Regions from separate parts of the Homo sapiens genome. Here region 1 is linked to region 2. A link means that fine-mapping ties the variant in region 2 to the expression of a gene that starts in the linked region. Tissue or cell type: prefrontal cortex. Region 2 holds a variant in brackets; the other region holds the start of a gene. All regions are shown on one strand. Distances are between the middles of the regions.

What was found. PIP is the estimated chance that this variant, and not a neighbour inherited with it, causes the effect. A credible set is the group of variants that fine-mapping cannot tell apart.
Region 1: ANKRD65 starts here. The variant in region 2 is the best candidate, but not a certain one, in a credible set for the expression of ANKRD65 in prefrontal cortex (ROSMAP, PIP 0.81).

What each region holds. Positions count from the first base shown.
Region 1 is chr1:1,418,832-1,425,247 of GRCh38, forward strand. It overlaps ANKRD65 (ankyrin repeat domain 65), which reads right to left and starts at 2,445. Exons shown (of 4, transcript NM_001145210.3): 1 at 2,302-2,445; 2 at 1,966-2,174; 3 at 1,221-1,761; 4 at 1-718. The coding sequence starts at 2,174. The coding sequence ends at 269. ANKRD65-AS1 (ANKRD65 antisense RNA 1) reads left to right here and starts at 1,335. Exons shown (of 2, transcript NR_187360.1): 1 at 1,335-1,733; 2 at 3,638-4,456. RefSeq lists an enhancer at 1-114.
Region 2 is chr1:1,359,835-1,366,220 of GRCh38, forward strand. It overlaps a transcript of MXRA8 not described here. Among named protein-coding and RNA genes, the nearest start is that of MXRA8, 4.5 kb to the left of the region's middle. The variant C/T (reference allele first, on the strand shown) is at 2,208.

The sequences.
Region 1 (6,416 bases), 59 kb after region 2:
GAGAGGGTCTCTCTTCCCTCATTGCCACAACTCATTCTTTGTTGAAGTATGGAGAAGGCTGGAGCTGCAGGGTCAGTGGGCCCTCCTGGGAGCTGGGGGCCATCCCTGGTCCAGCCAAGGCCTGTGACTGCAGCTCAAGCCACATCCCCTACTTTCTCCCATCCCCTCCTCCGGAAGCCTCTTCCCTGATGTCCCCTCCAGGCAGGCAGCCTCAGCCAGAGAGCCTGGAAATCACTGGGGCGGTGGAGCCTGGAGCCTGCTGTCTGGCTCAGCCCGTGGACTCTATGCCCTCACACTCCTTCTCCCCCCCTCCAAGTTCAGGCAGCGCCTGGGGCAGGTCCCCCTCAGGCATCTGGGCCACCTCGGCCCACTGCGTCCGCAGAGTGGGGCTGGCCCCTCGGCTCAGCAGAAGCCCCACGGTAGGCCCATGCCCTCGCTCTGCAGCCAGGTGTAGGGGGGTCTTTCGGAGCCAGCCGGTAGCATCCACCTGGGCACCCCTGTCCAGCAGGCAGCCGGCAACCTCCACGTGGCCTTCCCGAGAGGCGTGATGCAGGGGTGTGAGGCCCAGGGTGTCCCGCGCATCCACCTCGGCCCCCTGGGTGACCAGCAACTGGACGGCAAGCAGGTGTCCTCGGGCGGCAGCCCTGTGCAGCGCAGAGCGGCCATGCCTGTCCCTGATGCCTGGGTCTGCCCCGTGGCCCAGCAGCACCTCAATGTCCTAGAAGAGGAGAGAAAAGCAGGGGCCGGCCTCAGCCCGGTAGGCGAGGGGCAGAGCCACCAGGCGTTTGCCCAGCCCAGGCCTCTTCTGTCCCCGCAGCGGCCTGTCTCTCCTGACACCACTTCCTCATGTTGTGAGGCCGAACCCAAGGCTGGCCTGCTTGGAAACGTCCACTTTTCCCCCTAAGAGTCCTTAGAGCAAATCCAAGGATCTGCAGCCAACACCCTGCCCGCTGCCCAGGAACGGGGGTCTCAGGCACAGGCCCGGCGCTGGCGGAGAGTCTGTTGCTGCCACCAGCATGAAGCCGAGCCCCGGGCCTCGGATCCCGCCCTGGTCTCCACGGGACGGGGCTACACCGGAGGGGCACAGCCGGGGGCGCGCTCAGGGCCTTCGTGCCTGGACACCGTCCCCCAGCCTGGCTCCAGCTGCCCCGGTGGCACGTCTCTGGGGATCCTGGCCCTGCGCCCCCTCCCATCACTGCCGGGCGGAGGGCGGGACGTACCTGGGAGCGGCCTAGGGCGGCCGCCAGACCCAGCGCTGTGGCCCCCGCGCCATCCCGGGCGTCCACCCGCGCCCCGCGCGCCAGGAGGAAGCGCAGCGCCGCCCCGCGCCCCGCAGCGGCAGCCACGAGCAGGGCGCCGTCCAGGCCCGCGCCGCCGGCCGCCAGCAGCTCCAGCACCGCCAGCCGCCCGCCCGCGGCCGCCCAGTGCGCCGCCGTCCAGCCGCGCGCGTCCTCCGCCTCCGCTGCCGCGGGTCCCGGGCCCGGAGCCTCCAGCAGGCGCGCGGCCAGCAGCGTGTGGCCCAGGGCAGCGGCCCAGTGCAGCGGCGTGAGGCCCGTCCCGGAGCGAGCCGCCGCCGAGGCCCCGCGCTGCAGCAGCAGCTCGGCCACCCGCGAGTGTCCGTGCCAGGCGGCCTCGTGCAGCGCGGTGCGCCCCGCCCGGTCCACCGCGCCCACCGGGGCCCCTCGCTGCAGCAGGAGACGCACCAGGGGCGCGTGGCCCCGCAGCACGGCCAGGTGGAGCGGGGTCCGGCCTGCGTGGTCCCTGAGGAGGGGGCAAGGGCGTCGGCGCGGGGGTGGACCACTGACCAGAACCCCGCCCTGCCCCACCCCGTCCTGCCGCCCACCCAGCGCTGGGACCCCCGTCCTACCCCATCCAGAGAAGGGACTCCTCCACCCACCCAGTGCTGGGACCCCCATCCTGCCCCACCCAGAGAAGGGACCCCTTCACCCCCCAGCGCAGGTGCACCTCTCCTCCACGCTGGCACCTTGCCGCAGCAGCTGCGTCACCAGGCCTGCAGGGCCCCTCCACACGGCCTGGAGCAGGTGCCCCCAGCCCTGGACAACACTAGGCCCCTCTGTCCTGGTTCCCAGGGCCTCTTCGGAGTCCAGCTCCATCCACCGCAGTTCCTGTTCCTCCTCCTCCTCCTCTCTGGGCTCAGGCCTCTGGGAGTCCATCTGGGGGGGAGCAGGGATCCTACATCCACTGTGGAGGCCTCTGGCCTGCCCCCAGCCGTGTCCCAGGCCAACTGGAGCCCCCCATTCCAGTTACCACTTAGCCTTCAGAGGGGCTTGGCTCTGTTACCCAAGGGAGCTGGCTCAGGAGCTTTCTGCTCTGGCTGAGGGTCCTCTGTAGACGGGTTCTGGCCGAGGCTCAGCCTGGTGACCCTCTTCACAAAATCCCTTCTGCAGGCTTTGGGGTGGAGTGTCTGCTGCTGAAAAGCTGAATGGTGGCAGCTTCAGCCTTGCAGGGGGTGGGAGAACACAGCTGGTCCCCTGGGCCAGGCTGAGGCCACCTGACGCTGTTTACTCAGCCACTTAGGAAGGCCCTGCCTTCGGGCACAGCCCCCTGTCCAACATACTCCCTCCCCTGCTGGCTGCCAGGGCCCCAGTTCGGCTGCCCTCCTGGGGAACAAAGGCCAGGCGGTTGGGGAGGACAAGCAGGAACATGCTTGTGGACGAAAGTTGCTCAGACGCCACCTCCCCCAGGAAGCGCAGCCTTGGATGTACCCCGATGTGCCCCTGGAAGGCCTCACAGGGCTCTCCATGGGGCCCACCCTCGGGCAGCCCCCTCACCCACTCCTGTCCCAGCTGGCTAAGCCCACCCAGGGGTGGGTGCCGGCCCCTCCTCCCGATTCCAGGCTGGGGAGGAGGGCAGGGTGAGGTTCTGGCCTTCCTTTCTGTAAATGCTGGACAGGACAAAAGATTCACCAAGGACTCCAGGCAGGTGGCCTGGAAAAGAGGGTGGCGCTGGCATGGGAGGGACGAAAACCCTTTGGGGACTGGCTGGGGCAAGTCTGGAGCCAGGGAAGGGACAGATGCCTGGGCAGGTGGGGGCGGGGGTCGGGGGGCAGGCGGGAGAGTGGGGAGAATCCCTGCTAGGGTGCGTCTGCATCTGGAAAAGCAGCTCTGCCCCAGCAAGGCCTGGGGCAGCGGGATCCTGGGGGCCTGGGGCAGGATGGGTGGGGCTGGTGCTGAGGGCATCTTCCTGTCTCCCAGTACCTGGGGCCAGGCAGGAGAAGGGAGCATGGCTCTTTGGGGTGGCTGCAGCAGCCTGGCCCCTCCAGCGGCTGCACGGGAAAGGTAATGAGGGCTACCCATTCCCACCCCAGCCCCCTTCAGCCTCCCAGGTCCCCAAGGACAGGGTCTCCTGAGGGCCCTGGTCTGGCCTCCCCCACTCCCTAGAGGACTGCCTCTCCAAGGGCCCAAGGGACCAGGGGCCCCATCCCACCACCCCCCAAGCCACACAGACCCTGCCCTACAAACCTCATCAGGCTACTCATCCGTCACCTTCCCAGATCCTGACCACAGGTGGATCTGAGGCAACGTGCGACTCTAACCCTGTTTTAGTTTGTTCTTAGCATTTATCACTACAGGAAAGTATCTATGTGTTTATTTAAATGTCTGCCTTCCTCTTCTAGAAGGAAAGCTCCGTAAGGCTGACCGGGAAAGAAGCGAGGAGCTCTGGGGGCTGGGTGGAAAGTCCCGTACTCATCAGGGCCAGGGAGGCCACAGAAACTACCTCACGCCAGCTTCCCAGGGGTACAGCGGCTAGAATGGACCTCGAGGAGGCCCCTCCCAAGACTCCCGTCTCCCGGGTTCCACCGCAGTGGGGGCAGCCACAGCTGCCTCTGCAATGCTTGTAGGACCCACACACAGTGGGGCACGGAGGGGCAGAGGCCGCAGCCCCTTTGCCATGAATCCAAAGAACCTGGAGTGATTCTGCAGAGACGTTCGAACCAGAGCGACTCCATCTTGAACAGGGGCTGGGTAAAATGAGGCCGAGACCGGCTGGGCCGCATTCCCTGGAGGTCAGGCATTCTTAGTCACAGGATGAGATCAGCACAAGATACAGATCACAAAGACCCCGCTGATAAAACAGGATGCCGTGAAGAAGCCGGCCCCAAACCACCAAAACCAAGACAGCCAGTCCTCACTGCTCATTATGTGCTGATTATAATACATTAGCATGAGACACGCCCACCAGCACCAGGACCATTTACAGTTGCCATGGCAATGCCGGGAAGTTACCCTAGATGGTCTAAAAGGGGGAAGAACCCTCACTTCCGGGAATTGCCTGCCCCTTTCCCGGAAAAGTCCGGAATAATCCACACCATGTTTAGTACATATCAAGAAACAACAATAAGTGTTCTCGTCGGAGTAGCCCAGGCCGCTGCTCAGCCTATGGGGCAGCCCTTCTCTTATTCCTTTACTTTCCTATTAAACTTGCTTTCAGTTTACTCCGTGGACTCCCCCGAATTCTTCCTTGTGTGGGGTCCAAGAACCCTCTCTCGGGGTCTGGATCGGGACCTCCTTTTCCGATGACAGTCCCTGGGACTTAGTAGCAGTTCAGCAGTGTTTGTTGAATGAATAAGCGAGAGACCTGGTTGGGGGGCACTTAGAAAGCAGAGGTTTTGCAACTTTTTAAAACTTTTTATTTGTATTTTTGAGACGGAGTCTCACTCTGTCACTCAGGCTGGAGTGCAGTGGTGTGATCTCAGCTCACTTGGAACCACCATCTGCCAGTTTCAAGTGATTCTCCTGCCTCAGCCTCCCAAGTAGCTGGGATTATAGGCACCCACCGCCATGACCGGCTAATTTTTGTATTTTTAGTAAAGACAGGGTTTCACCATGTTGGCCAGGCTGGTCTCCTGACCTCAAGTGATCCGCCTTCCACAGGTTCCCAAAATGCTGGGATTACAGGCGCCCACCACCATGCCTGGCTAACTTTTTTTTTTTTTTTTTTTTTTTTGAGATGGATTCTCGCTCTGTTGCCCAGGCTGGAGTGCAATGGTTTGATCTCGGCTCACTGCAACCTCCTCCTCCCGGGTTCAAACAATTCTCCTGTCTCAGCTTCCCGAGTAGCAGGTACTACAGGCACGTGTCAACAGGCCCAGCTAAGTTTTGTATTTTTTTTTTTTTTAAGACAGGAGGTTTCACCATACTGGTCAGGCTGGTCTCGAACTCCTGACATCAGGTGATACACCCGCCTCAGCCTCCCAAAGTGCGGGATTACAGGCATGAGACACCGTGCCCGGCCTGATTTTTGTATTTGTAGCAGAGACGGGGTTTCACCAAATTGGCCAGGCTGGTCTCAAGCTCCTGACCTCAAGTGATCCACCCGCCTCAGCCTCCCAAAATGCTGGGATTACAGGTGTGAGCCACCGTGCCCAGCGCTGTAGGGACACTGCAGGGAGGCCTCTGCTGCCCTGCTAGATGTCACACGCCACATGGTACCACTCTCCTTCTTGTTCACAAGTCTGAAGGAAGTAGGTGAGCTGGAGAGGCCTGGAAGGTGTTGGAAGGGATGGAGCCCACTAGAAGGCCTCACAGGGAACGGCTCAGCTCACAGACACCTACTCCTGTCAATTAATTATGAACACGGAGCTGGAGGCTGGGCATAGTGGCTCACGTCTGTAATCCCAGCACTTTGGGAGGCCGAGGCGGGCAGATCACCTGAGGTTAGGAGTTTGAGACCATCCTGGCTAACACGGTGAAACCCCACCTCTACTAAAAATACAAAAATTAGCCGGGCGTGGTAGTGTGCGCCTGTAATCCCAGCTACTCGGGAGGCTGAGGCAGGAGGATTGCCTGAACCTGGAAAATGGAGGTTGCAGTGAGCCGAGATCGTGCCATTGCACTCCAGCCTGGGAAACAAGAGCAAAAAATTCCTCCTCGACAAAAAAAAAAGAAAGAAAAGAAAATGGAGCTGGAACTGCTGACGTGCAATAAAGCCCTGGGAGACGGACAGACGTCAGGGACTGTGCTGGGCGCGGGGGCTGATGCCTGTCATCCCAGCACTGTGGGAGGCCCAGGCAGGCAGATCACTTGACACCAGGAGTTCCAGACCAGTGTGGGCAACGTGACAAGATCCCATCTCTACAAAAAATACCAAAACTAGCCGGGCGCGGTGGTTAGGTGCCTGTAGTCCCAGCTATTTAGGAGGCTGAAGTGGGAGGACTGATCGAGTCCAGGAGGTCAAGGCTGCCGTAGCCGTGATTGAACCACTGTACTGCGGCCTGCGTGACAGAGTGAGACCCTGTCTCAAAAAAAAGTCAGAGTCGGGAGTAACGTTCAGAGAAAATGCTTGGGGTTTTGGATGGGAAAAGTTTTGCCCCTGACTAGAAATGATGGGCTGGGCGCCGTGGCTCACGCCTGCAATCCCAGCACTTTGGGAGGCCAAGGTGGGCGGATCACAAG
Region 2 (6,386 bases):
CCTTTCATTCTGGAAAAACAAGCCCCACCTGGCTGGCCTCGAGGCCTCTGCTGGCCTCTCCTCCTGTTTTTCCAACTGGTTTGTATTAGTGCTGGCAGCTGCCCGCCCGCCCATGTCTGTCTCCGTCGCACACTCTGGGGCCTTGGCCTCTGCAGTCTCTGTCTCCTTCCGTCACTCTCCCTGTTCCCTCTCTCCCCATGGAGGGAGGACGGACAGCAGTTTGGTGGGGGGACAGGGTTGGCCCTCGGGTCTGGGAGGGCCCGGCTCTGGGTGCAGGGCTGAGAGGGGCGCCTGGTCCGCACGACAGCCTCAGGCCAGGGCTCGCCTCACTCTGCAGGGCCGTCCCTCTCCGGGCAGTGGCCTCCAGCCACACTTTCGGGGACCCAGCCAGCGGAGATGCAGGCCAGAGGCTGTCGTCTGAGAGGGCCCTGACCTCTGAGAGGGCCACCTGGGGGCAGCTGACCCCCATGGGGCCCTGGGCAAGGAACAAAAGGCTGATGAGGCCATCAGGCCCCTTCCCTGACCCTCCCTGTCCGGCCCTCAGTGGGAAACAGCCACAGAGAAGAGCAGGCCTGGTAGTGACCAGGTCACCTGCTCCTCCCAGGGCCAGTGACCTGTGCCTCTTCTGCACCTTCCTGGGCTGGGACTGTGGAGCCTCTGCTCGCTGGGGGGTGGTCTGCAGAGCTGTGGGTGTGTGACTTAATTCCCAGCCTGGCCTGGCATTTTTCTCCCTCTGGGAAGAGGACAAACCAGGACAAAGCCACTGGCATCACTGTGCTCTGGCTAAGCCCCCAGCCAAACCAGCGCCCTGGACCGTCCTCCTAGCCCCACCTCTGGGGGTTGGGGTGGAGCAAGAGGGGTCAGCTGGCCCCACGGCCCGCACTGAGGATCTGATCTTGGCTGCCATTCCTGGTGACTCGGACATTCCAGGCAGCCCGTCTCATTGGGAAGAAAAACCACAGGCACTCAGAGCCACAAGCAGCACAGCCAAGCCCATATTCACTCCCATGAGTGTGCACAGACACATGCACACACACACAAAGACACACATGGAGACACACAGAGATACACACGCATGCACACGAAGACACATGGAGACACAGACACGCATGCACATGAAGACACGGAGACACACAGAGATACACGGAAACACAGACACATGCACACACGCGAAGACACAGACACATACACATGCATGCACATGAAGACACGGAGACACAGATACATGGAAACACGAACACAGACATGCGCACACACGACACACATGGAGACACGCATGCATGCACATGAAGACACACGGACACACAGAGAAGATACACGGAAACACAAACACACAGACACAGGTCCACACACAGAAACAGAGACACACACAGACACACATGGAAAGACACACACAGAGACACGGACCTGTGGCCGCACAGCGGATCATCGATGGCTGAAGAGTCCCACTTCCTGTCGTTCAGAAGCGTTTGCTGACCACCTCCTGGGTGCCAGGCTTGCTGGGCACTGGGGACTCAGCACTAAGCCGGGTGCCAGCCATGGCCCTCTTGGACCCCAGCCTCCTGGACTGTGCTGCATGTGGTGGAGGGAATGAGACAGGGGTCGGGGGGCGCCCAGGCTGGAGGGGCGAGGACGGACGGACCCAAGGAAGCAACCTCTGTGACAGCAAATGCCAGGCGAGGCCTGAGGACGCGGCTTCCAGGCGCAGCCAGTGGCGGGGCTGCCAGGAGTGGTCTTGGGACGCCAGGGACCCTGTGTGTGTGGTAGGGGGGCCACTGCTGACACCAACACAGACAGGGTTAGGCTCGAGGACAAACCGTATTCGCCGCCGCCGCACCTGCCACGCACATCGGAAGCGTTAGCACAGTTTTCCCTGCGTGGGGCTGGGTCTCCTACCCAGGCTGAGTTTCTCCCCTCTAAGAGGAAACACCGCCAGCCTTCTTTCTCCTACGGCCTTTGGATTCTGAAAACTCGCTGTGGGGAGGGACGTGAGGCTTCGGCACCAGGAACCCCTGCGGGCTAAGACGGTGTTGGCCAATCACATCCAGTCACTCTCCTGGGAAAGTCACTTTTATGGAGACAGCCCCCCAAGGGGGTCTCAAGATATATTGAAGTTTTGGTTAGTTATGTATGCTGACTAAATTTACAAGTAAACTTGTTTATCAAAAACAAAAGAAAATGTGTTAATCCGTTATAGCCGCTTGTGG[C/T]GACTGTTCCCGGCCATGTCCCTGGCTGACTGTTTTCCTGCTGATCCTGACCAGCGTCCCCGGCAGCCATGGCCTGCATTCGTGTTGGTCCCTCCTCCTGCAGCCCCGAGGAGGCAGGGCTGTCTGTGGATCCCAGATCGGTTGTCGGAAGGCCCGGAAGAGGAGAGCTGCCCTCCACCACCACTGTCTCCTCCTCCTGGACAACAGAGTCAGGACACTGCTGAGATGGGGTGAAGCATAATTGTTGCACTGAGACTCAAAACTACAGGCAAGAAGGTTTGAAAATACAGAAACATTTCACAAATCATCTGCCTCCTCTCGAGTAGTATCTGGCTTGTTCTAAACATGCAAATGCAGTGAGACGGGCTGCCTGGTACACACACATCGCCCCGGAATCATGACCTTAGGCCCCAGGGCCACCTTCTGTAATTTTTTTTTTTTAAGCCACAAAGTCTCGGCCAGGCAAGATGGTTCACGCCTGTAATCCCAGCACTTTGGGAGGCCAAGGTGGGCAGATCACCTGAGGTCAGGAGTTCAAGACCATCCTGGCCAACATGGTGAAACCCTGTCTCTACTAAAAATACAAAAAATTAGCCAGGCGTGGTGGCAGGTGCCTGTAGTCCCAGCTACTTGGGAGGCTGAGGCAAGAGAATTACTTGAACCCGGGAGGTGGAGGTTGCAGTGAGCCGAGATCGTGCCGTTGCATTCCAGCCTGGGAAACAGAGTGAGACTCCATCTCAAAAAAAAAAAAAAAAAAAAGGGTTGGGCGCGGTGGCTCACATCGGTAATCCCAGCACCTTGGGAGGCCGAGGTGGGTGGATCACAAGGTCAAGAGATGGAGACCATCCTGGCCAACATGGTGAAACCCCGTCTCTACTAAAAATACAAAAAATTAGCCAGGCGTGGTGGCAGGTGCCTGTAGTTCCAGCTACTTGGGAGGCTGAGGCAGGAGAATCACTTGAACCTGGGGGATGGAGGTTGCAGTCAGCCGAGATTGCACCACTGCACTCCAGCCTGGTGATAGGGCGAGACTCCGTCTCAAAAAAAAAAAAAGAAAGGAGTGAAACCCCATCTCTACTAAAAATACAAAAATTATCCGGGTGTGGTGGTGTGCACCTGTAGTCCGAGCTACTCCAAGGGCTGAGGCAGAAGAACTGCTTGAACCTGGGAGGCAAAGGTTGCAGTGAGCCGAGATTGTGCCATTGCACTCCAGCCTGGGCGACAGAGTGAGACTCGGTCTCAAAAACAAAACAAAAGGACAGGGTCTCACTGTGTCACCCAGGCTGAAGGGCAGTGGTGCAAACATCTTGGCCCACTGCAGCCTCAAATTCCTGGCCTCAAGCGATCCTCGGCCTCTCAAAGCAATGGGATTACAGGCGAGATCCATCAGTTTTTTCTTTTTTTTTTTTTGAGACAGAGTTTTGTTCTTTTGCTCAGGATGGAGAGCAGTGGTGCAATCTCAGAATCACCGCAACCTCTGCCTTCCAGTTTCAAGCTATTCTCCTGCCTCAGCCTCCCGAGTAGCTGGGATTACAGGTGCCCGCCACCACGCCTGGCTAATTTTTTTTTTTTTTTTTGAGATGGAGTCTCGATCTGTTGCCCAGGCTGGAGAGCAGTGGCGCAATCTCTGCTCACTGCAAGCTCCACCTTCTGGGTTCATGCCATTCTCCTGCCTCAGCCTCCCGAGTAGCTGGGACTACAGGCGCCCGCCACCACATCTGGCTAATTTTTTGTATTTTTTTTAGTAGAGACGGGGTTTCGCCGTGTTAGCCACGACGGTCTTGATCTCCTGACCTCATGATCCACCCGCCTCAGCCTCCCAAAGTGCTGGGATTACAAGCGTGAGCCACTGCACCCGGCTTTTTTTCTCTTTTTTTGAGATGAAGTCTCGTTCTGTCGCCCAGGCTGGAGTGCAGTGGCGCAATCTCGACTCACTGCAACCTCCGCCTCCCGGGTTCAAGCAGTTCTCCTGCCTCGGCCTCTGGAGTAGCTGGGATTACAGGTGTGCACCACCACACCCAGCTAATTTTTGTATTTTTAGTAGAGACAGGGTTTCACCATGTTGGTCAGGCTGGTCTCAAACTCCTGACCTTGTGATCCACCTGCCTCAGCCTCCCAAAGTGCTGGGATTACAGGCATGAGCCACCACGCCCGGCGAATTTTTGTATTTTTAGTACAGACGGGGTTTCAATGTGTTGGCCAGGCTAGTCTCGAACTGCTGACCTCGTGAGCCACCCACCTCGGCCTCCCAAAGTTCTGGGATTAGAGGTGTGAGACACCATGCCTGATCAATTTTAAAATCGGGAACAAAGAACACTGAGTGCTGCCAGTTACCTGCGGTGGCTCCACCTGCAGGGTCAGACTCCACCTCTGGGACTCTGCATCCGCCTCCCTTCCCGGCTGGGCACGTCTTAGGGCAGCTGTCACACCAGCCTCAGGCGAGGGCCAGGCCACGGCTGCCACATGGAATGCACATCCTGGATCCTCCGTGGTGGCTTCTCCCTCCTCACCAAGGGAGGTCGGCTGTTACATGTAACATTTCTACCTTGGTTATAATTACAAATTTGATGTACGCAATTATGATAGAAAAATCGGCTGGGTGCGGTGGCTCACTCCTATAATCCCAGCACTTTGGGAGGTGGAGGCAGGAGGTTTAAGCCCAGGATTATGGAGACCAGGCGGGACAATATAGCAAGACCCAGTCAAAAATAAAAAAATAAGGCCAGGCTCACCCCTATAATCCCAGCATTTTGGGAGGCCAAGGCAGGCAAATCACCTGAGGTCAGGAGTTCGAGACCAGTCTGGCCAACATGGTGAAACCCCCATCTCTACTAAAAATACAAAAATTAGCTGGGGATGGTGGCATATGCCTGTAATCCCACCTATTCAAGAGACTGAGGCAGGATAATCTCTTGAACCTAGGAGGCAGAGGTTGCAGTGAGCCAAGATCACACCACTGCACTCTAGCCTGGGTGACAGAGTGAGACTCTATATTAAAAAAAAAAAAGCCAGGCGTGGTGGCTCACCCCTGTAATCCCAGCACTTTGGGACACTGAGTGGGGGCGGATTACCTGAGGTCGAGAGTTCAAGACCAGCCTGGCCAACATGGAGAAATCCCATCTAAAAATACAAAAATTAGCCGGGTATGGTGGTGCACGCCTGTAATCCCAGCTACTCGGGAGGCTGAGGCAGGAGAATCGCTTGAACCTGGGAGATGGAGGTTGAGGTGAGCCAAGATTGCAGCATTGCACTCCAGCCTGGGGAACAAGAGTGAAACTCTGTCTCAAAAACAAAATAAAAAACAAAAATAAGGCTGGGCATGGTGGCTCATGCCTGTAATCCTACCACTTTGGGAGGCTGAGGTGGGCAGATGACCTGAGGTCGGGAGTTCAAGACCAGCCTGACCAACATGGAGAAACCCCAGCTCTACTAAAAATACAAAATTAGCCGGGCATGGTGGTGGGCACCTGAACTCCCAGCTACTCTGGAGGCTGAGGCAGGAGAATCACTTGAACCCAGGGGGCGGAGGTTGCGATGAGCTGAGATCGTGCCATTGTATTCAGCCTGGGCAACAAGAGCAAAACTCCCTCTCAAAAATAAATAAATAAATAAAAATAAAAATAAAAAAATTAGCTGGGCATGATGGTGCACGCCTGAAGTCCCAGCTACTCTGGAGGCTGAGGCAGGAGAATCGCCTGAACCCAGGAGGCAGAGGTTGCAGTGAGCTGAGATTGCACCATTGCACTCCAGCCTGGGTGACAAAGCAAGACTTTGTCTCAAAAAAAATAAATAAAAATAAAAATTAGGCCAGGTGTAGTGGTGCACACTTGTGATCCCAGCTAGGAAAGGCTGTGACAGGATGGCCTGAGCCTGGGAGGGGAGGACGAGTATGAGCGTGAGAATGATTGTGAAAGGATGACTATAAATTGAGTGTGAATTAGTGAATTGGTGAGTGTGAAGTAGTGCAGATGGGTGTGAATTCGTGAGACTGTGTGTGAATGAGTGTGGATGGGTGTGAACTGGTGATTGTGCATTTGTGAATTGGTGTGAATTGTGTGGTGTGGATGAGTGTAAACGGGTGTGTAAATTAGTGAATTGGTGAGTGTGAAGTGGTGTGGATGAGTGGATGGATGTGAATGGGTGAGAGAATGAATGAGTGGATGAGTGTGAACTGATGAG